Linked DNA regions of Homo sapiens: all the other regions are linked to region 2. The links come from fine-mapping of genetic effects on gene expression. A gene starts in region 2. Each other region holds a variant in brackets. All regions are shown on one strand. Distances are from middle to middle.

Region 1 (8,183 bases), 38 kb after region 2:
TTTTGCTGGAACTTCTTCCTGCCTGCGGACTGTGCCAATCCCTCATGACTGAGTTCTTGGCCCTCCACTTGGCTCTCTATTCTCTCACTCCCATAGAGAAATAATCTATATTCATCTCCATGTGGAGGAATTCACATCTCCATATCTAGTCCAAACTGCTCATTCATCCCTGTCTCTTATTTCCAACTGTCCACACATAGACACCACTTCATCATTTCATACTCAACACTCCCTCAACCCCAACAAGGACTTCTCCCCAACTTCCCTAATTTTTACTCATGATAATACTAGAAGCTTGGGCAAGATTGGGACAGGAAGAGGAAGCTAAGGGCTCTTAAGCTGTATTCTGAGAAAAAAAGTAATGAAGAAGTAAAAGATAGGCTCAGCGTCTGGGGGAGAAGATTTAATAGAGGAGAGAGAGAAAATGAAAGCAGTTAAATCCAAATCCCTCTCTTTCCTAGTAAGTCTTTCCTAACAACAGAATCTACCTTTAAGCCACAAATGGCCCAAGATTGCTGGGAGGGATTGAAATCTTAGAGCAGTGAGGACAGCACCTGGTTGATGTCAATGAGTTCGGATCTTCCTATTTGGTAGGTAATACCCTGGAGTAGATAAAAAGTTAAGTTATAGATGTCACTTCAGACAGTAATCTATGAGAAATGAAGATACTCTCAGATTTCTAGTCTCAAAGAACCAAAATACAAAGGCAAATGTGGCCCTAGTTTTTAAAACCCATAAAATGATAGACTCCAGAATTTAAGGACTGGAGAGCTCCTTGGTCTAGAGTGGACTTTTAAACAAAGGAAAAGTCTGTGGAGCACTTAGGAAAGAAAGCAGCAATCATTATTAGTACTTGGCTGAACTATTTCCTTTCTCCTTTGGGTTAACAGACCAGTAGATAGAAGATTCTCAGGAAATTTGATAAAATATTTTAGGTTGCACTTCCCTGTCTTCAATGTGGGCAGCTTCCTTTTCTTTCATGCCATGACTGTGCTTATAATTGCTTATTCAGTGTTTGACTTCTTCAATAGACTCTGGGTTTGATGAGCTCAGGGTGGGACCACTCCTGACCAGTTCACTGCTGCATCCACAGTTCCTAGCCTTGTAGAGACTGATGAATCAATCAAAGAGCCAATTACTCAATAGGTAGATGGAGAATGTGAGCTGGATGATAAGAGGTAGAATTATAAGTGATTACACAAGTATATTTAAAACATTTAAAAATTTCTGAATTGATGTCACTCTAAAGATTAGCTCTAACTATAAAATCTTAGAAGACAACACAGGGGAAAAGCTTTATGACATTATATTTCACAGTGATTTCTTGGATATGATACCAAAAGCCCAGGCAAGGAAAGAAAATATAGATAAGTTGGATTTTATCAAAATTAAAAAAAAAACTTTTAGGCATCAAAGGACACAATCAACAGAGTGAAAAGGCACCCCATGGAATGGGAGAAAATATTTGAAAATCATTTATCTGATGAGGAATTAATATCCAGAAGATTTAAAGAACTCCTACAACACAACCACCACCAAAAATCCTCATCAAAAAACGGGCCAAGGACTTGAATACACATTTCTCCATGGAGGATACACAAATGGCCAGTAAGCACATGAAAAGATGCTCAACGTCACTCATCAGAGAAATGCAAACCAAAACCACAATGAGAAAACAAACAAAAATAATAAATGTTGATAAGAATCTAGAGAAATTGGAACCCTTGTACATTCTTAGTGGGAATGCAAAATGGTGCAGCACTTGTGGACAACAGTATGGCAATTCCTCAGAAACTTCAGAGGGAGAAATGGGGTTATTGTTTAATGGGTACAAAGTTAGAATTTTACATGATGAAAAAGTTGTGGAGATGGATGGCGATTATGATTGCACAACAATGTGAATGTACTTAAAGCCATAACACATTAATGTATACTTAAAAATGGTTAAAATGGTCAATTTTTTGCTGTATTTTTTTACCACAATTTTTTTAAATGGGTGAAAAAAGCACCTCAGTTATGAGCTCCAGGTTTTTATCCTGGGTTCTTGTATCACTTTGATGAAAATATTACCAGCTTTGCTTTTGATAGAAAAGTTAGAACCAATATAAAGATTGTTAGAATAAGTTTCTAAGGACTTTCAGACTGTGGAACAACAGATCAGAATGAATATTGAAATTAAATAGGAATAACTAGAATTCTGAATATAGGATAAAAATAAGCAAAATAATACACAGGATTAGGAGTGATGACTTTTTTTACATGAAAAAGATCTTGGGGTTTTCATTTCCTAAAATTCCAATATAACTCCATAGCAGTTAAAAAAAAAAAAAGAAACTTTTGCCTATTAGTGAAATTGTGCTCAGATAAAAGAAAGTAATAGTCTCACTGTGCTCTCTGCTGATCAGATAGTACTGGGGCACCAAACACTTTATTTCTTCTTTCAAGGTATGTGTAAACTGTGATAAAACAAGATAAAACTATGAGGGCAGTTAGGGAACTCAAAACCTGATCTCATTGGTCTTAATTGATGGACCAGGGCATTTAGCTTGGGAAAAAGAAAATTAGGAGGGAAGTAATAACTGTTTTCAACTATCTGAAGGGCTGGGATGAGAAAGAAGGACTGCTCTTATTCTGTATTTACTCCTACAGTCAGAATTGGGATGAATGGGCAAAAAACTAAAAGAAGCCTGATTCATTAGGCGGCAGAATTTTCTAAATATTAGAGCTAATGATGTTCAATAGAATGGGCTCCCATTATCGGACGGCTCAAGTGGAGGTGCTGGCCACCTGTCAGGGATACTTAGGGCAGTAGGATGGCCTCTTCCAACACCACGATTCTACCTTTCTTTCAGCTTCTCAGTCTCAAAATCACCACATCGTGTTTGATTCCTACCTCTTCTCCAGTGATTGTCCCCATTATCCAATGAAGTCTTGGGGGTTCTTCCTTCACAGCTGTCTTTGCTTCACCCTTTACTCTCCACTGAATCGCCAGGAGCCTCACCTCCTCAACCCCAGAATAGGTGCGTGCTTCCAGTCAGCTCTTCCAGCCTGTCCTTGCTTCAATCCATCCTGCTTGCCCCTGCCAGACTCACTTGATAAAACACTTAGCATGTAAGTCCTCTGATTAAGACCAAAGAGTGGGTCCCAATTGTTTCCCATATCAAGATGAAATTCCTTTTCTTGGCTTTTGGGGCTATTCATTCTTCCCTCCCTTTTCAATTTCACATTCTATTGTGCACATGATCAATTTTGTTTAAGCTGTTCCCTTCGCTGTCATTTGGCCTGCTTTTCTTTATCCGTCCATTCCCACTGCCATTTCCTCATTCGTGTTGTTCTCTGTGTGTCCTCCACCCCCAGCCTCATTATAGGGTCCACCTCATGTACCACAACCAGCATGAAATCTTTCCTGGCCACCCAAGCTCATATGGATCCTTCTTCCCTCTCATTTATTTAACAGCTATTTACTGATCTTTGATAGAGTGCAGACACTATGCCAGATGCTGGTGAACAAGTGATGAGCAAGAAAAATTTGGCTCCTGACTTCACACAGTGGGCAAGATAAAATACATAATTGCTATGAAGGATACAAACAGAGTCGTGATACAAAATGATGGTGTGTGTGTGTGTGTGTGTGTGTGTGTGTTGGGCATAGGTAGGTATTTGACAGGGTACTCAGAGAAGACCTCTCTGAGGAGATGACAAATAAGCTGAGACCTGAGGGGCATGGAGAAGCCAGCCATTGGGAAAGCCTGGAGTCAAGTATGCCAGGCCAAAGAACTGGTGTGGGTAAGGTCCTGTGGCAAGAAGGCCTTGGCACGCTGGAGATACTGAAATTAGCATGGTTCGGCTGGAGCACAGTGGGTGGGGGAAGGGCATGAAGCAAAACTGGAGAGGCGCTGGGGCCTGGCAGTCCTGCCAAAAATCTTGGGTTTCATACTAATTACATTAGGAAGCCATGAAAGGGTCTTAAGGAAGAAAGTGGTGTGATTCATACTGTTTTTTTTGTTGTTGTTGTTGTTGTTTTAAGACAGAGTCTCACTCTGTCGCCCAGGCTGGAGTGCAGTGGCACGATCTCAGCTCACTGCAGCCTCCGCCTCCTGGGTTCAAGCGATTCTCCTGCCTTAGCCTCCTGAGTAGCTGGGACTGCCGGTGTGTGCCACCAAGCCCCGCTAATTTTTGTATTTTTAGTAGAGACGGGGTTTCACCATGTTGGCCAGGATGGTCTCGATCTCTTGACCTTGTGACCCACCCACCTCGGCCTCCCAAAGTGCAGGGATTACAGGCGTGAGCCACAGTGTCCAGCCAATTCATACTTTTTAAGGTTACTTTGTTTATATTGTGGAGAATAGACTGAAGAGCTAGAGTGAAAATACTGGTTAAAAAACAAACAAACACGTAATAAATGAGGTGAAAGATAGTAACTTCATCTAGAGTGATGAAGAAAAGTGCATGGATTTAAGATATGTTTTGGAAATTGGCATGAAAGGATTTGCTGATGGTTTTACATGAGGAGTAAAGAATTAGGAATGAGTCCCAGGTGTCTGATATGAAAACTAGGGGATGGATATAATGTCATTTACTGTGATGGGGAAGTGGGGT[G/A]TGGAGATAAGATGTGAGAGAAATTCAGAGGTTAAGTTTAAGACATGTTAAGTTTGAGGTGCCTGTCAGATAATTTCTCTCCTGGGCCTGGTTCTTCCTTTGTATGGAAGTGATCCTTGTATTTCCTCATTGGTATTATCACACTTTTAAATAATGATGATTTTATTTTAAAGGACTTGCAGGTAGCAAGCATAACAGGAATGAAGAAAATTCTAGGGCTTTTCCAGCCTCATTGACAAGGAAAAAGCAAACTACTCTTCATTGCAGTGTTGACATTTCAAAACTGGCATTTAATTATTTACATACTTTCATATATTAAGGTACATATACATGTGTATAAGTAAATCTGTATGTGTATATGTGTGTATAAAAGTTTTCAATAGCTCGACTACTCACAGCTATCCTAGAGAATTTTACCAAAGCCCAGGAGATCTTCTGCAGTTTGGAGAACAAAATAAATCACAGTAATCCACCATCCCCTGTAATCAAATACATTTTGACTGAACCCAATAACAATGACTCAGTTTCTAGCAAGGTGCCAGACGCAGCCCTTGTCTTCATTTGACGCTGAGAACCGAGCAGCCAGAAGCCAGTACTCCAGAGCCCGTAAAGCACCGCCAAAAGCGTGGCCTTAGATCACAGATTGATTCATGGGGATGGGCAGGAGTCTCCAGGGAAAACAGCTCATGGGGTAGCTGTTGAGCTTCTATGTGGGAAGTGAGGAAAATGAAAGCTCCTGGAAGCTTGGTAAAGATGAGAAACAAACATGAGCTCCTGGGGTCTTTAATAAAGAGAACTTCGGCTGTAGAAAACAAAAAGATTATTGAAAACTAAATTCACCCTCAACACTAATTAATTGGACACTGGATATAACTGAGATTTGTAAGCTGTTTCTGCCCTTGACCCTGGCTCCAGCCTCTGGAGAATGGAAGAGTGTGGCTAGCACAGAGCTGCGGGTCAGCCCCTCATGAGAGGGAGTTGCTGGTCTAGGTGCAGGTGCTGAGGTATGAGAAACCCAGCCGCCCAGAGCCACACAGCAACACGCCCAGCTGGCCCCGGTGAAGACATGCAGTTTCCTAGGGCTGGGTCTCTTTAACCTGTTCTTTGGAACCCCAGGGTACCCACATAATTGTTCGTGGACACTAAGCAGGTATTTTGCAAGAGAAATCTGGTTTCTTTCGTGTTTGGTGAAATAACTGAATTTTCCCATGCTTTAACTATGTGTGAGGAAATAATTTCTGGTTCTTCTGTTTATTTTCTCTTTCTATGGTCATACATACACTCACCGTCTTCCTCTGACAGTATTGATTACCAAGCACAATTAAGCACTGAGACAGAAAGTTAACAGCTGAAGTGGGGTCACCTATAGGCAGAAAATAGATTCGTGTCTGTTTAACAGTAACCCAAATAAGAAGCCATGTTAAATAGAGACAACTTTTATTACAATCCTTATAGCATACCTTCCTTTTAACATTATTTTTATGATTTAGCTCCCTCCAATAGGAAATGTTTGGCCACCCACTGGTTTTGTGCTTTATATACTTATTGCTTTAAATGTGTTATTAAAATCTTACCACCAAATTAGGATTCCATGACTTTTCTTAAATGTAAGGGTTTGTGACTTTGAAAAAAATTACAGGTCTGAGTTAGAGAAAAGAAAGTGGCAGTGAGGCTCAAGTTGCCTAAACAGCATGGGAAATATGATACAATTTAATGTTATTTCAAGCAAAAGAGATGAGTCTGAGGATTTTGTAGAATAAGCAAATTTTTGCAAGTGATCTTCCTGTGGTTCTCTCACCCCGCCCCCAGGCTATCTTCCACAATCTGATCACCTGATCCTTTGCTTAAAACTTTGAAGTTCAAACTCTTTAGTGGGCCACACTGGGCTCTCTGTGATCCACTCTCTCTCTAGGCTTATTTCTTTTCTTTTTTTTTGAGACGGAGTCTCGCTCTGTCGCCCAGGCTGGAGTGCAGTGGCGCGATCTCGGCTCACTGCAAGCTCCGCCTCCCAGGTTCACGCCATTCTCCTGCCTCAGCCTCCCGAGTAGCTGGGACTACAGGCGCCCGCCACTACGCCTGGCTAATTTTTTGTATTTTTAGTAGAGATGGGGTTTCACTATGTTAGCCAGGATGGTCTCGATCTCCTGACCTCATGATCCGCCCACCTCGGCCTCCCAAAGTGCTGGGATTACAGGCGTGAGCCACCGCGCCCGGCCTAGGCTTATTTCTTACTTCTTTACTTCTTCCTCCCTTAAAGAGGCCATCCCATCAGCAAGCCCTTGCTGTTCCCATTTCCTCTGCTTCAGTGCTCACCACCATCCTCCAGGAATGCTCTCTCCTTTAAGAGTCAGTTCAAAAAATCACCTTTCCTTTGAGGATTCATTGAATTTTCCTTTCTGGCCCATTGCGCCCTGTCCACACCTTCACTGTAGCAATCATCATATTACATCGCAATAACTGGTTTACACACCTGTTTCCACATCCCAGCCTTTGCACAGTTCTTGATACACAGTAGGTGCTCTATAAATATTTGCTAAATAATGAGTCCTCGGGTTAAAATGCAACTTCCCTCTCCTTTCAGCACCCTGAAATTACTCAGAAAAGGAAAAGGAAATGACTGAAGTGTAGACAGTTTAAGCGGAACACAGCAAGTACCCTGCCTGAGGTGCTCCTGGCCACTAGTTAAGGAGAAAGAATAAATATGGAGACTGAGGTCCCAGCACCTCTGTGGAGCTGTTGTGATTTCTGTTTACAACAGCCTGGCTAAGCAATCTGTGGGACCCAGGGCGAAATGGAAATGTGGAGCCCCTATTCAATAATTAAGAACTCCAAACAGTGACAGCGGAGCATTAAACCAAGCCGGAGTCCTGTCCAACTGCACAGGTGGCACAGATGACCACAGTTGCGTTGTGATGATAATATCAAGAAGTATAGAGCGCAGGGAGGCTGGGAGAAATGTTGGATCCATTTTTTAAGGAGTAGCTTTAAATATGTAAAATTGTTTTCAATTTATTTTCTCATGCCGCCTCCTTCATAAGACCCCTATAATTATGTCTGTTTTCATGTATAAGTGCAGAATCGTTTCTAAAGTAAATTATTTTATTTTACATTGTTTCAGGGAAAATGCTACATACTTCTAGTTAGTCCTTAACAAATGCTATGAGCCACACACACTCCACCACTTTCCCCTGAAGTGAACAAGTCACTACTGCATTTTCTCCATTCAGTCCCAAACTTCAGGAGAGGAAAGAGAGAAGATTGGCTGGGCTTTCACAGGAATATGTTAATATGAAACATCTTTCATCACTCTTCCACTGATTTTTAAAAAATCTTGCATCAGTTCTCCATGCACTAGCATCCAGTCTCTCTAAAGGTAATTTTATTTTATAACAATCTTAGTAAATGATAAATTGTTGTATTTAGACCCTAAATTTGGCTTGTCAGACATTATCGTGATGAAATGGCATGTGCTGATAAAGTGAATGAAGTTGTATGATGGGGTATTTTAAAAACTCAGGTGGGGAAGTTGATCTGCACTGCCCCAAGTTCTCCAGCAGGGGGCTGCGAGAGGAGTGCCACACATC
Region 2 (8,183 bases):
AAATTTCTCAGGAGGAGATTTATAAAGGAAGCAATAAATGATGTAATGAGCAATGGCTCAACAACATTCCTATGATATATCCTATAATTTCATTTGGCAAGTATTTATGGAGTACTTACTACAAGCCAGGCACTGTGCTCACCACTGGGGAAAAAAATGTGAATGTGGTTGTTTCTTATCTAATCTCATTATTAAAACTGAGTTTTTACATAATATTAAATGCAATCCTCTGAAGACAATTTGGCTGGGAAAGGGCTTATTTCCCGAGCCATCCCTGCCTGGTAGTTTAAAACCAGGGTCAAAATAACAGCTACTCAGTGTTCCCCTGCTTCCTGCAACCACCCTAACACCCCCACCCACACGGTCCTACCCTGGGTCAGGACTTCCAGTCTCTCTCTTTCTCTCTCTCTCTCTCTCTCTCTTTTTTTTTTTTTTTTTTTTTTTGAGATGGAATCTCACTTTGCCGCCCAGGCTGGAGGGCAGTGGTGCAATCTCGGCTCACTACAACCTCTGCCCCCAGGTTCAAGCGATTCTCCTGCCTCAGCCTCTCGAGTAGCTGGGATTACAGATGTGTGCCACCACACCCGGCTAATTTTTGTATTTTTGGTAGAGACAGCGTTTCACCATGTTGCCCAGGATGGTTTCAAACTCCTGACCTCAGGTGATCTGCCTGCTTTAGCCTCCCAAAGTGCTGGGATTACAGGCGTGAGCCACCGCGCCCGGCCCAGCCTCTTTTAAATTGCAGCTCACTGCCACTACTATCACACACAAAATACATCTGGACTCCCCATGGTTTGTCTCACATGTGTTGACAAACAGTGCTTTTAACAACCACATGAAATCAGCTATTTTCCACCCTCACTCTGGTTTCTTTTGGAGATCTGCTGCTAAGTTGTTCCCCACACTTCCCCACACTCCCCCTCCAACAGGACACATGAGCCCTGACAGGACCATTGCTGTATTAGTCCGTTTTCACACTGCTATAAAGATACTACAATTTATAAACAAAGGAGTAAATTTACTCACAGTTCTGCATGGCTGAGGACAGGGGGAGGCCTCAGGAAACTTATAATCATGGCAGAAGGGGAAGCAGGCACCTTTTTCACAAGTTGGCAGACCAGAGAGGAGAAAGAAGGAGGAATTTCCAAAAACTTATAAAACCATCAGATCTCCTGTGTGGAGAGAGAGATCCTTCTTTCTCTTCTTATAAAGCCATCAATCCTACTGGATTAGGACCTCACATTTATATCTTCACTTAACCAAAATTGCTACTGGAAAGGGGTCCTGATCCAGACTCCAAGAGAGAGTTCTTGGACCTCGGGCAAGAAAGAATTTGGGGCGAGTCCATAAAGTGAAAGCAAGTTTATTAGAGAAAAAGAGAAACAAAAGAATGGCTACTCCATAGACAGAGCAGGGGCATGGGCTGCTCAACTGAAAATACTTATGGTTATTTCTTAATTATATGCCAAACAAGGGGTGGATTATTCATGAATTTTCTGGGAAAGGAGTGGGATTTCCTGGAACTGAGGGTTCCTCCCCACTTTAGGCCATATAGGGTAACTGCTGGCCCCGACATTCGTAAATTGTCATAGTGCTGATGGGAGTGTCTTTTAGCATGCTAATGCATTATAATTAACGTAAAATGAGCAGTGAGTTTGACCATAGGTCACTTCCATCAACATCTTGCATTTGGTTGGTGTTGGCCAGCTTCTTTACCACTTCCTGTTTTATCAGCAGGGTCTTTTTGACTGGTTTCTTGTGATACCAGTCCTGCTGACCTCCCCCCTCATCCTGTGACTGAGAATGCCTAACCTCCTGGGAATGCAGCCCAGTAGGTCTCAGCCTCATTTTACCCAGCCGCTATTCAAGATGGAGTCACTATGGTTCAAATGCCTCTGACAGAATCACCTTCTAAAAGTCCTATGTCCAAATGCAGTCACTTAGTGGGTACGAATTTGGCGGGGGACACAACTGAGTCCATAGCAAACAGTATTCGATTTTTAATCACATCAGCACACACAATAAGACTCTGAAAAGTGAGTCCCTTGGCTGGGCTAGGGAGAAAATTGTGACAATATGTAGTGTTCCAAAATGACCCTCCTCCCTGCATCAGGGAGGGGAGCACTCAGAACCTTCCAGCTTGGTGAACAGAATTTGTTCTCAGGCCAGGAGCCATGCTCTGTAAGTATGTTGTCTTTACATCTGGCCCAGTTTGATCTTTGGAGATAGACACATAGTGGGTCCCAGATTGTGTCCTGTTGCAAAGATCTGGAAACACAGGCTTGGGATACCTGTATATCAACAGAAACCAGACTAGCAGGTGGTAAGGCTGGCATTGTTCTGTGTTCTTAGGTTTTTTTTTGTTTTTTTTTTGTAGACGGAGTCTTGCGCTGTTGCCCAAGCTGGAGTCGTGTGGCGCGATCTCGGCTCACTGCAAGCTCCGCCTCCCGGGTTCACGCCATTCTCCTGCCTCAGCCTCCTGAGTAGCTGGGACTACAGGTGCCCGCCACCACGCCTGGCTAATTTTTTTTTTTTTTTTTTTTTGTATTTTTAGTAGAGACGTGGTTTCACCGTGTTAGCCAGGATGGTCTCGATCTCCTGACCTCATGATCTACCCGCCTCGGCCTCCCAAAGTGCTGGGATTACAGGCGTGAGCCATGGCGCCTCTTAGGTTCTTAATCACTGGGACACCCACAGGCAAGGCCTGGCTTTTTCCACAAGAAGTATTCTGGATGGAAGTAAACACATCAGTGACCTGAAAGTTCTACATGATTACAATGACTTAAGCTTGAGAATTTTTTTAAAAACAGAGAAGGGAGTAGTAAATGACTAAATATAAAGCACCTAGTGCTGTGTTTCGCAAATGGCAATCACTCGGCAGGTGTCTCAGCTCCTCGCTGCAGCAACCAGGCTTCCAGGACTGGAAGGAAGTCTTCTACATTCAAAACTAGACTCAAACTACTCCCCTCCACCACCCAGTTCTACTCCTGCGCTCGCGATCCTCCTGCCTGGCAAACTCCATGGCCCGACAGATTCACTACCACTCCACTGCCGGACCAGGCACGTCCGTGGGCCATCCACGCCTGGAAAACGGCTGGCTGGGCCGGAGGGGCGAGGCCCGCAGGCGAGGGGGGCGGGTACAAGCCACTTCTTGGGAGCCGCGGTACGCGCAGCCTTGTGGGAGTTGTAGTTTCCGCAGCTCTGAGTCTCCAGGCGAGGTGTCACCACAGGACTCGTTTTCCCGTGCTCCTGTGCGCGGGTCCACTTGGGACGGGTCCCTGAGTAGGTGAGGAGGTGGGTAGGAGCTTGCTTATAGAAAAGTGGAATCGAGTAGTCCTTGCTGGTGGAGCCGCTGCCGCCAGGGAACTCAGGGCCGGCTCCTGTTCCTTCAAGAGTGCTGGAGGCCAAACTTGAAATACAAGTTTAATGTTCCTCGTCGGGCAAAAGATAAGGATCCGATCTCCCCCGGCCCGGTGTGCAGCAGGAGCGACCAACCCCGACCCGGGTTAAAACTCCCAGGGACTCTTCGCTGCTGCCACCTCTTGTTCTCTCCCCCGTTCCCACTCGGGGTCTCCCTCAGGGCCGGGAGGCACAGCGGTCCCTGCTTGCTGAAGGGCTGGATGTACGCATCCGCAGGTTCCCGCGGACTTGGGGGCGCCCGCTGAGCCCCGGCGCCCGCAGAAGACTTGTGTTTGCCTCCTGCAGCCTCAACCCGGAGGGCAGCGAGGGCCTACCACCATGATCACTGGTGTGTTCAGCATGCGCTTGTGGACCCCAGTGGGCGTCCTGACCTCGCTGGCGTACTGCCTGCACCAGCGGCGGGTGGCCCTGGCCGAGCTGCAGGAGGCCGATGGCCAGTGTCCGGTCGACCGCAGCCTGCTGAAGTTGAAAATGGTGCAGGTCGTGTTTCGACACGGGGCTCGGAGTCCTCTCAAGCCGCTCCCGCTGGAGGAGCAGGTGAGAGGTCGGCCCGGGCTGGGGCTGGTGGGGCGAGGACCGTGTGCCAGGCCAGGAGTCTCGCCCTGACACACATCTTCAGAGCTTTACTCGCGCGGAGCGGGGCTCGGGTTGGGTCCAGAAGAAGGGAAAACAGCAGTAGCCAGTGACTCCCCAGGCTCTTGAGCAAAGGACCTGCTGGGGTTAGGACAGCCCCGGAACTTCCAGTTTTGCCCTGATGGCGCAGCCATCAGTAAGCGCTGCTTAAGACGCATGGGAGTCGCCTGGGGATCCTGCTACGTTGCAGATTCTGATTCAGCAGGTGTGGAGTAGTGCCCCAGGTCAGCATTTCTATTAAGGGTCTAGGTGAACTTGAATACAAGGGTGCAGTGCACTTCTGTGTGACCATTTTGAAGGTGGTTTGTCAGAGCTGAAGGGCTGAAGGGACTTTAGTGATAGGAACCACTCTTAACTGAGATTACAGTGGATAAGAGGTCGTTGCCTTTGGAAACAAACTTTATAACTGCTTTTTCTCAGGGTTTGCTGGAGGCCATTTGAGATCTCCTGAAGTTTTTTTTTGTAACAAGTGTTGTATTCTAGGGTTCTCCTTTTCTATTTAAGGTTACTAAACCTATAGTGGGAGGGATCTGAGGTCGGAACAAATTTAAAATGGGCTAGTCTGTGGCAGTAATGTTTTAAAAATCTGTCTGGTTTTGTCAGGATAATTATGACTAAAGCACAAATAGTTTAAAAAAAAATGATTATCTTTCCTGGATGTGACTTTTTATAGCAGAAAGGCCTAGTGAAGAGGAACAGGCAACCTGAAATCCCCAAACTCCCAGGTATTACACCTGTGGAGTGCTTTTGTATCGTTGGTCTTCCAGGTTGATGTTGGAGGAGGTCGAAAAGATTGTCCAAAATTGATGTTAGGTATACTCTTCATAATAACAGTTGCTTTCTAGAAACCTTCAGGATTGTGTCTTTACATTGTACAACTGGAAACCCATTTTTCAAGGTTGGCCGCACATGAAATTAAACTTCTAAAGCATTTTCCACATAAATAAATACATTTGGAAGGCACTTAATTCTATTACCAGGTTTCTAGTTAGCCTTACTCTGGCTTTACCACTTGCTCTCTGGAACCGGGATTTCTTCTTTCATTTTGATTCTTTGATTTTTTTTTCAGTCTCTTACTTTGCCTTTTTATATTAGATCACTAAATTTTCCTTATGATTTTGTATACAGCCCATCTCTGATGCTCCCCTTCCCCCAATTCTTCTCTATTTATTCTTGGTACAGAAGGACTGGGGAATCACATGTAGGAATATATATTATATTCACGTAGAAGACAAAAAATTATCAGTGGTAATGGAGAGTAAAACTTTGAATGTGTAGGCCTAGACCTAGTATGTACCATATATATATATATATATATCCTGAAGGCACTAGGAAAAGATTTAGATTCTTTTAGGGCTTTATCCCTAAGGGAGAGTGGGTGTGTGATGGATATCTTCTGCCTTTATGGTTGAAAGGTCCGTTGTAGCTTAGGATACCAGCTTCATTCATCTTCAATCTGTGTAGCCACAAAATAGCATCTGAATCCATGGCCTGACTTTGCAATTAGAGAAGGCATATTACCTCTCCTTTCTGCTCATATTCTCCAGACTTTAGACAGATGCTTTAAACGTCTTCGGCTCTCTAGTATAAAGTTGTGTGCATGAAAATCAGGGGTGAACCAACTCTCTTTCAATTTAGGCTATGAGCAAATATTAGCCTCTTAAAACTTGTTTCTGGATAGTCTCTGTCCAGTGTTCATTTCAAGATCCAATTTGATAGAGGTTGTTATTGGGATTTTTTTTTTTGAGACAGAATCTTGTTCTGTTGCAAGGCTGGAGTGCAGTGACGCGATCTCGGCTCACCGCAACCTCCGCCTCTCGGGTTTAAGCAATTCTCTTGCCTCAGCCTCCCGAGTAGCTGAGACTATAGGTGCACACCACCAGGCCCGACTAATTTTTGTATTTTTACTAGAGACGAGGTTTCATCATGTTGGCCAGGATGGTCTCGATATCTTGATCTCATGATCCGCCTGCTTCAAGTCTCCCAAAGTGCTGGGATTACAGGCGTGAGCCAGCACCCGGCCGTTATTGGGATTTTTTAATCTTCTTGGTTCTGCTATTAATTATAGTCAGAAGGGACTGCCTGGCAAAAATTTTTTGTCTTTGGTACATGTTTCCTGATTTCTGACTGGTTTATAGATTAATATATGTGACAAGTCACTTCATTCAGCCATCTCACAAATTCTCAGAAAGTAGCATGATTTAAAACTAGATGTTTTGGCTGGGTGTGGTGGCTCATGCCTGTAATCCCAGCACTTTGGGAGGCTGAGGCAGGTGGATCAAGAGGTCAGGAGTTCGAGATCAGCCCGGCCAAAATGGTGAAACCCCATCTCTACTAAAAATACAAAAATTAGCCCGGTGTGGTGGTGGGCGCCTGTAATCCCAGCTACTCGGGAGGCTGAGGCAGGAGAATTGCTTGAACCCGGGAGGCGGAGGTTGCAGTGAGCCAAGATTGGGTCACTGCACTCTACCCTGGGTGATAGAGCAAGACTCCATCTCAAAAACAAAAACAAAAAACTAGTGTTTTATTGGGTTGTTTTCTTATGGCTTGAATGGCTGTTGGTTTAACCTGTTTTGCTAAAAGATTGTGCTTTGGAAATAAAAATATAGAACTTGATTGGCCATTTTTTTTCCTGATCATTAGAGCAGATCCAAATGCACTATCAAAAGAAAAGATTTGGCACTGCTTCCAGGCTTCCCTCAACTCCCCTGGGTGTCAAGATGGCCTCCACCCAGGGAGATTCCTCAGTTTTTATAAAATAAAGTCCAACCTACCCCAGCTTCACTGTTGATTAAGACATTTGGGTCCCTATTTATTTGACAATATAGATGAGCTGGGAAGCATAATGTAAGAATCTTTTATTGCTTAGTACCTTTCCAAAACTCAGCTAAAAGAAGCGGTATTCAAGAAGCATTACATGAGGTCCACCCATTCTTCAGGATCGATGGTTCTTAACCGTGGTGAACATTGGAGTCAACTGGAAAGCTTTAAAAAATACACATGCCAGGGTCTCCCTCCGAAGGATTCTAATTTAATTGGTCCGGGGTATCCAGATAATGTAAAAGACTCTCTGGTGAAGCTTGAGAATTATCTGGACTGAAGAGCATTAAAAAAGTGGAGGCCCCACTTTTTTGGGGGATAATCCAAATGCGGTTATCCCAGGTTGGGACTCAGGCATCAGTAACTTTTAAAAAATGTCCTGGTAATACCAGTATACAGACAAGGTTTAATATGATTGCTTTATTTTAAAATCTACACCTGGGAGGTTTTTGTTTACTTTTATGTAGATTTGTTCTTTTACCTGGAATGTAGTATATCAATCCCAGTACAGAATTGCCTTCGCTGAAATGTGCTTTGGTAAGAGGTTATCTTTCTGTGTTGAGAGAACTAGGAGAAACAATCCCACAGAACTCATTGCTGTGACTGCTGAAAAGATGTTCATTATATTACTCTATCCTCTTTATGAGGACCCTTGGGAGGAATTTGTCTGTTAGCATTAGGAATGGTGTGCTTCTCCTGAACAATTGGCTTGCTTTTTTCTTTAAACTAGTCTAGCTGATCAAGTTTGTTTCTTTATGTAAAAGTCAGGAAGCTGGGTGCCAAGTCTGTGGCCCACCTATAGTAAGTAAACAGATCTTCATGGTGTACATATTTTAGTAACCGTGTTACTGCATCCATTTCTTTGTCCCTACATTTGTTTGCTTTTGTCTTTCTTGCCTACTTTGAATTGGTTGTCTTACTATATTTTAATTTTTGCTATATCTACTTTATTACCCCTTGAAGAGGGGTATACACAAAATAAGTAAAATTATCAAGTTAGTCTTTGCCACTAACTGGGAAGCTTAAGAGCAGGAATGAGAATGAGAGTGTGTATGTGGGGTGGACACTATTATATGAAACTGATGTATCATCCATTCTTGAAAATCTGAAAACTGTACTTTAGACTTGACGTGACCTGGACTCCAGACTCCTAGGAGACGCCAAGGGTCCTCTCTTGGTGAATGTGCCTAACAGATTTCTTAGTGAGGCTGAATGGCCCTGTGGAGCTTTGTGTCAGGCCCTGTGGTGGACACTGGAACTACAAGGATGGATAATTCAGTCTTGCCTTTAAAGGAGTTTCAATGTGATAA
Region 3 (8,183 bases), 50 kb before region 2:
TTCCTGGAGGCAGAGCCTTCCTTATCAAAGGGGCATTGGGAGTGTCAGGCACTTACTGCACTGGCTTGTGATGGCACATCACTGGCCCTGCAGGGCGGGGTGAGGAAGCAAGTGATTCGGTAGAGACCTAGGAAAGAAAAAGGGAAACAAAGGCAAAGGCACAGAAAAATTCCCGGTTGTGTAGGGGACAAACTTGCCTCTTGAGATTTCTCTGGTCACCTCTCCCATAGTACCTGATGCCTGCCTCTGTGACAAAACCTGATGTCAGCCTCTGTGGCTGAACCCACAGCTGGAGTCACCCAAAAGCAGGGGCAGAGGAGTTCCTGCAAGGGACTGCCCCAAATGATTCCAGGATGGGGCCAGTTGGGATTCCAAAGAAAGAAGTACTAAAATGTCAAGGTGATTAGTTAAAAGCATTTACTGTATCAGGTGAACTGTATTACAGAGGGGGGCTGGAGAGCATCCTCCCGAAGGACAATGAGACAAGGGATGTCCTACCTAGGTATGTCTGCAATGAGAAAGTCAGGGTATGGAGCTTATAAGAGGGTTTAAGGAGTTTGACTCGGGGCTGGGGCTAGTCTCTTTCAGGGTTTTGGGCAAAAATGCAAACACCTTTATCGGTGCCTGGAAATGTTCAAGGGCCCCACTTGGGTTCAAGCCTGCAGGAGAAAACATATATCTGGCTGGGAGAGTGGTGCAAGTGTTCTACGTTTCCCGGCAGGACCAGAGAAAAAGTGGGGGAAGTTGGAGGACCCTACAATAGTGTTTATTTTATTCCAGGTACTGGTTGAGGCACTTTGTATGTGTATTAACTCATTCTTTCCTCACAACAACCCTATGAGTAGCTACTACTATTATCCCTATTTTATAGATGGAGAAATGGAAACAGAGAGGTTAAGACTCTCGCCCAAAGCCATACAACTAATAAGTGGCAGAACTGGGATTCAGATCCAAGCAGGCTGGTTCAGTGCCATGCTTGTAACCACCATAGTGGTTCACACCTTCTACTGAAATGTACCTTTTTCCCCTCAGTCTCAGACTGTGGATTCTGAAAGGTCAGAAACTTAGATTTACTCATTGTATCTACTCTGCTTAGCTGAGTACCTGGCACATGGTATGTTCTCAACCAATGTATTCTCTTTCCCCTCAGATCCTCCATATTCCTAGGATTCTAGGAGCCCCCTGAACCCTCATAGATTTCATCCCATCATCCCCACTTCAATCCTTACCACCCAACAGGCTTGCTCTCTCATTAGCAGGGTCCCCTACTCAGAGTATTTTTTCTCTTTTCCCTTTCTCCCCTCTCCAAATCCTACGCGGCCTTCCATTTGACAAGGTCCTGCAATCAGAAATATTAACTTATGCCAATGTTAATCATTTATAAGTTATTTCCTCTCTTGGTGGAATTTACTATCCCAAGTGGAAAAAAATTCCAAATCCATTATTTCAGACAATTCAGCAATTCTTTAAAATTGGACTCATGAGACTGTTCCCTTCTGAGACTGTCCCCAGGTCAGGGACTGAATGGGACCTGCTACTTCCTTCAGTCAGTGTGATCACAGCCTCCTGTGGTGGTGTCCCATCTGGGAGCTTCCTCTAACCCTCCTCCCTAAGGACATCGCCCCACCCCCATCACCTTCTCCACTCACTGGGCAGCCAATAGAACAGCAAGGACTGGAGCTCAGCTGTCCTCAGCAGCTGCAGTCCCCTCCCCTGATGGCTAAGCTGCCCACCTGAAATATTCTGCTGGGAGGCATGCAGGGATGTCTGGGGGGCTGTCATGAGGTAAGGTGGTTTGCGATCAGCCTCTTTGAAGAAGTCTGGCTAAGAAGCCATGTGGGGAGAATTGGTGAGGGAAACTTTGACCCTGTCAGAACATAGGAAGCTCAGAGCCTTGTGTCTCCTGAATGAGCCATAAGACCTCTGACTGGCCTCAAATGGCACTACCCAATCTCTCTCATCTCTCCCCATTACCCAAGAACTCTCTGAATGTGGAAATTTCCCCCCAGGCCTTCCTGATGCAATGAAATAAGCATGGGATTAGCACCCAGGCATGAGAATTTGCATTCTGGCCACACCACCTATGGAGTGTGTGCTGGGCATTGTGTAAGCACTCCACGTGTATTAACTCACTGATTCCTTGTGACATCCCTAAGGAGCTGGCAACTGGTATGTCTCTCTCTCAACCTTGGCAGTTCTCCTCCCACCCTGCACTTCTCTCTAGCTGCTGCCTTACAATGCTCTCCCATCTCAGCTAGGCTTCTGCCAAAACCTCTACCTTCTCACACCTTGTTTGCTTCTCATCCCACTGCAATCCTCTCTATTTTGATTTATCGGCAAAGTCCCATAATGACCTCCATGCTGCTAATTTATCTGTGTGTTTTCCTCATTTTATGTCATCTCTCTGTGGCAGTAGATGAAGTTGACTGATATCTCTTATTCAGCTTCCAAGAAACTGTGTTTTCCCCTACATTTTCCTGTTGTCCTTCGAAATCTAGTTCAGACTCCACATCCCTCAGGAAACCATCTTCGATCTCTGCCTGTCTTCTCTCTAGTCGATGACTCTCTCTTTTGTGTTATTATACCTCTGAACACTGTACTTCCCTTCTTTGTTGTACTTATCACATTATACTGTAAATTTTTTAACCCATTTATGTCCTCTATTAGGCAGAGAACTCCTCTGAGGGAAGAAACCGTAATCTATCCTCTATTCCCAGTCTATTATTCATAGTAGGTCCTCAATACATTGCCTATTGCATAAATTCATAAATGGGTAAGTTGCTGAGGAAGGCCAGGTATATGGATAGCTCATTTAACATGTTTGCTAAGGAAAGACAAATGCAACTATAGCTGTTGGTTGGAAACAGGACTAAATGGTAGAAGAGTATGGTTTTGTGTGTTTGTTTTTTTGAGGGATGGCTAAGACCTAAGAGAAGTGGTCCCAGGAGACAGAAGAGGTTTTTAGAAAAGGGGAGAGCAAAGCATATTTGCAGGCTGAGGGGAGAAAGACCATGGAATAGGAGGAAGCCTGAAATGAGTAGGGGAAGTGGTTGAAGCAAGAGACTGTGAGGAAAAGTCAGGATGGGCCCAAGAGCACAGGTGAAGGGATTACTGTGAAGGCGGAGAAGCCAGGGCTCTCTCCTTAACCAGCTGGGCCCCTGCCCTTCGCAGCTGCTGCCAGCGCTTGACCACTCCCTCAGCTGGGATTCCACTTCCTCAGGCATCAGCACACCTATTACCATCTCAGCTGCTGCCACTGCAGAGACCCAGAGAACAGGTGCTGCTTCTCCTCTCAGCAATTCCTGAACTCTGATGGCAGCAGGGTCACCACCCAGATGTTAAAAATGCCTCTCTTAGGCCACAGCATAGAGCCGCCATGTGCCCCTAGAGCCCTTACAGCCGCCCTAGCCCCAGAGCTCCTTCGCTGACTTGCTCCTCTTGCTTAGTATAATTCCCTGCTTAGCTGGAGGGCCTGGCAGGGCCAGAAGACACTGTGGGTGAGACCCTGTTGTTACCAGAAATGGGTCCCGATCCAGACCCCAAGAGAGGGTTCTTGGATCTCACACAAGAAAGAATTCAGGGCAAGTCCATAGAGTAAAGTGATAGCAAGTTTATTAAGAAAGTAAAGGAATAAAAAATGTATACTCCATAGGCAGAGCAGAAGCATGGGCCACTCAGCTGCTTATACTTATTGTTACTTCTTGATTATATGCTAAACAAAAAGTAAATTTTTCGTGAGTTTTCTAGAAAAGGGGTGGGCAATTCCCAGAACTGAGGGTTCCTCCCCTTTTTAGACCATAGAGGGTAACTTCCTGACATTGCCACAGTATTTGTAAACCCTCACGGGGCTGGTGGGAGTGTCTTTTAGCATGCTGATGCATTATAATTAGCATATAATGAGCAATGAGGACGACCAGAGGTCACGCTCATCACCATCTTGGTTTTGGTGGATTTTGGCCGGCTTCTTTACCGCAAACTGTTTTATCAGCAAGGTCTTTGTGACCTACATCTTGTGCCAACCTCCTATCTCATTGTGTAACTAAGAATGCCTTAACCTCC[T/A]GGGACTGCAGCCCAGTAGGTCTCAGCCTTATTTTACCCAGCCCCTATTCAAAATGGAGTTGCTCTGGCTCAAACGCCTCTGACACTATTATTTTTGTATATACTGGAGTATCTGCAGTGGGCATAAAATGATCCAAAAAAACACAAACAAAAAATGACTCTAACTTTATGTGTGTGTTGGTGGTGGTGGTTCCAATGAGGGAAATTTGTTTTTAGATCTGTTAGGTCCAGGGTCAGGGTCCAGCCCATGCAAGGGGACTGGGTGGATAGCTGGAAGAACACTTGTGGGGGCCATAGGTAGGTGAAATACAGCTTTATTCAGTAGCTCTCTCATCAGCAGCTCTCTTACATTGTTTGCTTTGTTTCAGCTGCTTGAGCCAGCCACTCCCATGCACAGCTGTGTAGCCGGCTCTTCTTTGCCTCCAGGGTCAGTAGCTTAACTCTTTTTTCCTCTGGGCACAAGCTGGTTCCTGGCTGTCCCCTGCCTGCTTGCAAGACAGACAGCTTTGGCTCTCTCTCTCTCTCTGGGCACCAGTTTGCTGAGGTATGTCGAGCTATGTCCAGAAGCTGAGCGGATCCATGTTCCCCATGCACAGCATCAGCAGGGCAGTTATACCTTTTCAAACAATAGTGGCTCCAAGGCAAGTACGAACTTACACAAACAGGTTGTATAAAAAGTGGAGTATGCGCCTGCACCCTAAACTTGCTGAGTCATTCTGGTCCAGATGTCCACCTCAGTCTATTGTTGACCAAAGCACATCCATGTACTTTACACTCCACCCCCTAAGCTGAGGGAGACATAGATTTTAGACACATAGGTCCAATACACGGGTTTGGCACATAAGCCCCTGATTCACACGTCTGACACATAAGCTTTCGGCCCACAGGCCCGATACATACACATATGCTTGACACATAAGCCTGGCACATAGGCTTTGGGCATGCAAGCCCAATATACACACATAGACTTGATACATAAGCCTGGGAACACAGGCCTGACACACAGGCCTGATACATAAACATAGGCTTCTGGGCACACAGGCCCATTACATACATAGGCCCTGATAAACTGCCCAGCTATTGGTGCAGACTACCTTAGGTGTCACCTCCTTGGTGATTACCATTTACATTGCCCTGAGTTCAGCTCATTAGCTACTCTGTCTACACCTGATTTCAAACCATGTGGTGTCAGAACTAGGCTGGACTGCACCAGCAGTCCAGACAGCAGTAGCACCCTGGCTAGACCTAGCTATGTACCATGCCCTATCAGGAATGGGAGGGCACCCTTCCTTAAACAGTGATGGCTCAGGGTCTAGGGGTGCCTCAGGCCCCATGGCCTCATCTTGCATTAGGACTACAGGCCCTAAAACCTCTACTGCTAAGGGACTTGTACTCAGAGTACTCCACTGTTCCAAGTAGACACCCCACTTCACTAAAGTGGATGTCTGTGCCATTCCTGTCTGGCAGGGGTAGTTACCCATGAATGCACCCATCCCACTATTGGGTAAGTCATCCAGACGATGACTGTAGCCCATCCTGCCACACTCTTATGAGCCCGAAGGGCAGCATATGCAGTTGCTAACCACTTTCCCAGTCCGGGGGGTTGTTACCCATGAATGTACCCATCCTGGCACTTTGGTCAGTTCTCTTATCAAACAGAAAAGGCTTTACACTTTTGCCTGACTGCAGCAGGTATTTTTTGAACCGGAGCACTTGGGTGGGACTGGGTTGCACAGCAACGTCCTTCTCCTGAATGACTTGCACTAAGTCTGTACATGACTGCCGACATTACTTGCTTAACTCCCACAACTCAGTAGGGGCACCGGGACTATAGGAAATGTGTTCCATCACAACTGGGGAGGGTCCCTGGGCTCACCCTTGGGGCCCAACAGCTGTCCATGCTCTATTTTCAGACGGATCACTGGGCAAGCCTGCAACAGAAGTTCTTCCTCCTCCCTGCACTGTGTCTCACAGGGATTGGGCGTGCACTTCCTGCAGCACAGTCACAAACGCCCATCTGACTCTGCTGGCAAAGGCATGTTCCTCCTTGGTGTTGTGCACCTCCAGGTACTTCAGGGCCTTCCCCATACTCATGGGGGCCCTGTCCATTGCCTCTCACATTTCCACTAGGGCCCATCCAAGCAGCACCACTGCCACTGGGTACCACACCTCATCCTGCCAATGTCACCAATTGTTAGATCCAGGGTCAGGGTCCAGCCCATGCTTAGGTCTGAGGGGAGTGGGTGGATAGCTGAAAGAACACTTCGGGCGGCCATGTGTAGGTGAAATATGGCTTTATTCAGTAGCTCTCTCATCAGCAGCTCTCTTACACTGTATGCTCTGTTTCAGCTGCTTGAGCCGGCCACTTCCATGCAGAGCTGCACGGCTGACTCTCCCTTGCTTTCAGGGTCAGCAGCTTAACTCTTTCTCTGGGCAAAAGCTGGTTCCTGGCTCCCACCTGCCTGCCTGCAAGACAGACATCTTTGGCTCTCTCTCTCTTTCTCTGGGTGCCAGTGTGCTGAGCCATGTTGAGCCATGCCCAAGAGCTGAGCCAAGCCATGTCCCCTGTGTACAGCATCAGCAGGACAATTATACCTTTTCAAACAACAGTGGCTCCAAGCCAGGTATGAGCTTACACAAACAGGTTATATAACAGGTGGAGTAAGCGCCTGCACCCTAAACTCTATGAGTCACTCTAGCCCGGATGTCTGCCTCAGCCTACTGTTCACCAGAGCACATCCAGGTACCTTACAAGATCAGATTTCAATCAGGAAGTTCTTCACTCCAGCAAATGCACTATATATATTGAGTCAGAAAACAAATATGGGTCACTGAATGCTCAGAGCAGTGAAAATAGTTGACTGGAGCTGCAGCTCTTTGCAATTTAAGAGATAGAAGCTGCTCCAGATTAATAATCAGGGAAGGTAGACAGAATTTTGCAGAGCTTTATATTCAATTATTTATTTAACAAATATTTGAGTCTTGCTATGTGCCAAATACTGTGCTGGACACTAAACATAGAACAGTCAATAAAATAGACAAAATCACTGCCCTCGAGGAGCTTAACCACCTAGCATGATGATGTCAGAGGTGTTTAAACCAGAGCAATTCCATCTTGAATAGGCCCTGGATAAAATAGGGCTGAGATCTACTAGGATGCATTCCCAGGAGGTTAAGACATTCTAAGTCACAGGATGAGACAGGAGGTCGGCACAAGATACAGGTCATAAAGACCTTGCTGATAAAACAGGCTGCATTAAAGAAGCCGGCCCAAACCCACCAAAATCAAAAGGGTGACAAGAGTGACTTCTGATAGTCCACTGCTACACTCCCACCAGCGCCATGACAGTTTACAGATGCCATGGCAACACCAAGAAGTTACCCTATATGGTCTAAAAAGAGGAGGAACCCTCAGCTACCGGAATTGCCCAACCCTTTCCCAGAAAACTCATGAATAATCCATCCCTTGTTTAGCATATAATCAAGAAATAACCATAAAAATGGGCAACCAGCAGCCCTTGGGGCTGTTCTGCCTATGGAGTAGCCATTCTTCATTTCTTTACTTTCTTAATAAACTTGCTTTCATCTTACTCTATGGATTTGCCTCGAATTCTTTCTTGAGTGAGATCCAAGAACCCTCTCTTGGGGTCTGGATTGGGACCCCTTTCCAGGAACAAGGAGACTAAAAATAAACATCTTGTGAAGGAAAAATAAATCTCAGGATCCCAAGATCACTAAGCCAAAGGGAAAAGTCAAGCTGGGAACTGCATCAGGCAAACCTGCCTCCCATTTTATTCCTAAATAAGATAGTTACAAAGATAAAAAAGCCACATACCTCCTTCATGATTTGACCACTACGAAATTCCTTGTGAGCCTCAAGATCTTTACCCTAAAAGGGTTCTGTTGAGTTTTACCCTGACAATGTAAATTGATAGCTTATCCTCACAGGTAGGACGAAGGACAGAACTCTAAGTCATCGCTCTGCTCACCTGAGACAAATGCATATCTGATTGCTTCCTCTGATGTAAAAATGCAGATTTACTGAGCTAGACTCTTTTTCTACCCCCACCCTCATCATGTGTAAATTTTGTATTCGGTGAAAGGCTGCTCAAAAATCAAAAGTA

The links. PIP is the estimated chance that this variant, and not a neighbour inherited with it, causes the effect.
Region 1: its variant is fine-mapped to the expression of ACP6 in hypothalamus (GTEx, PIP 0.99).
Region 3: its variant is fine-mapped to the expression of ACP6 in stomach (GTEx, PIP above 0.99).

Annotation. Positions count from the first base shown.
Region 1 is chr1:147,627,655-147,635,837 of GRCh38, reverse strand. It overlaps a transcript of ACP6 not described here. Among named protein-coding and RNA genes, the nearest start is that of ACP6, 39 kb to the left of the region's middle. The variant G/A (reference allele first, on the strand shown) is at 4,600.
Region 2 is chr1:147,665,604-147,673,786 of GRCh38, reverse strand. It overlaps ACP6 (acid phosphatase 6, lysophosphatidic), which reads left to right and starts at 3,263. Exons shown (of 10, transcript NM_016361.5): 1 at 3,263-3,957. The coding sequence starts at 3,739. RefSeq lists enhancers at 2,801-2,870, 3,311-3,560, 4,201-4,260, 3,472-4,415.
Region 3 is chr1:147,715,772-147,723,954 of GRCh38, reverse strand. All of the region lies in intron 2 of LOC105371230 (a long non-coding RNA gene), which reads left to right. All of the region lies in intron 1 of LOC102723321 (a long non-coding RNA gene), which reads right to left. Among named protein-coding and RNA genes, the nearest start is that of GJA5, 41 kb to the left of the region's middle. The variant T/A (reference allele first, on the strand shown) is at 4,060.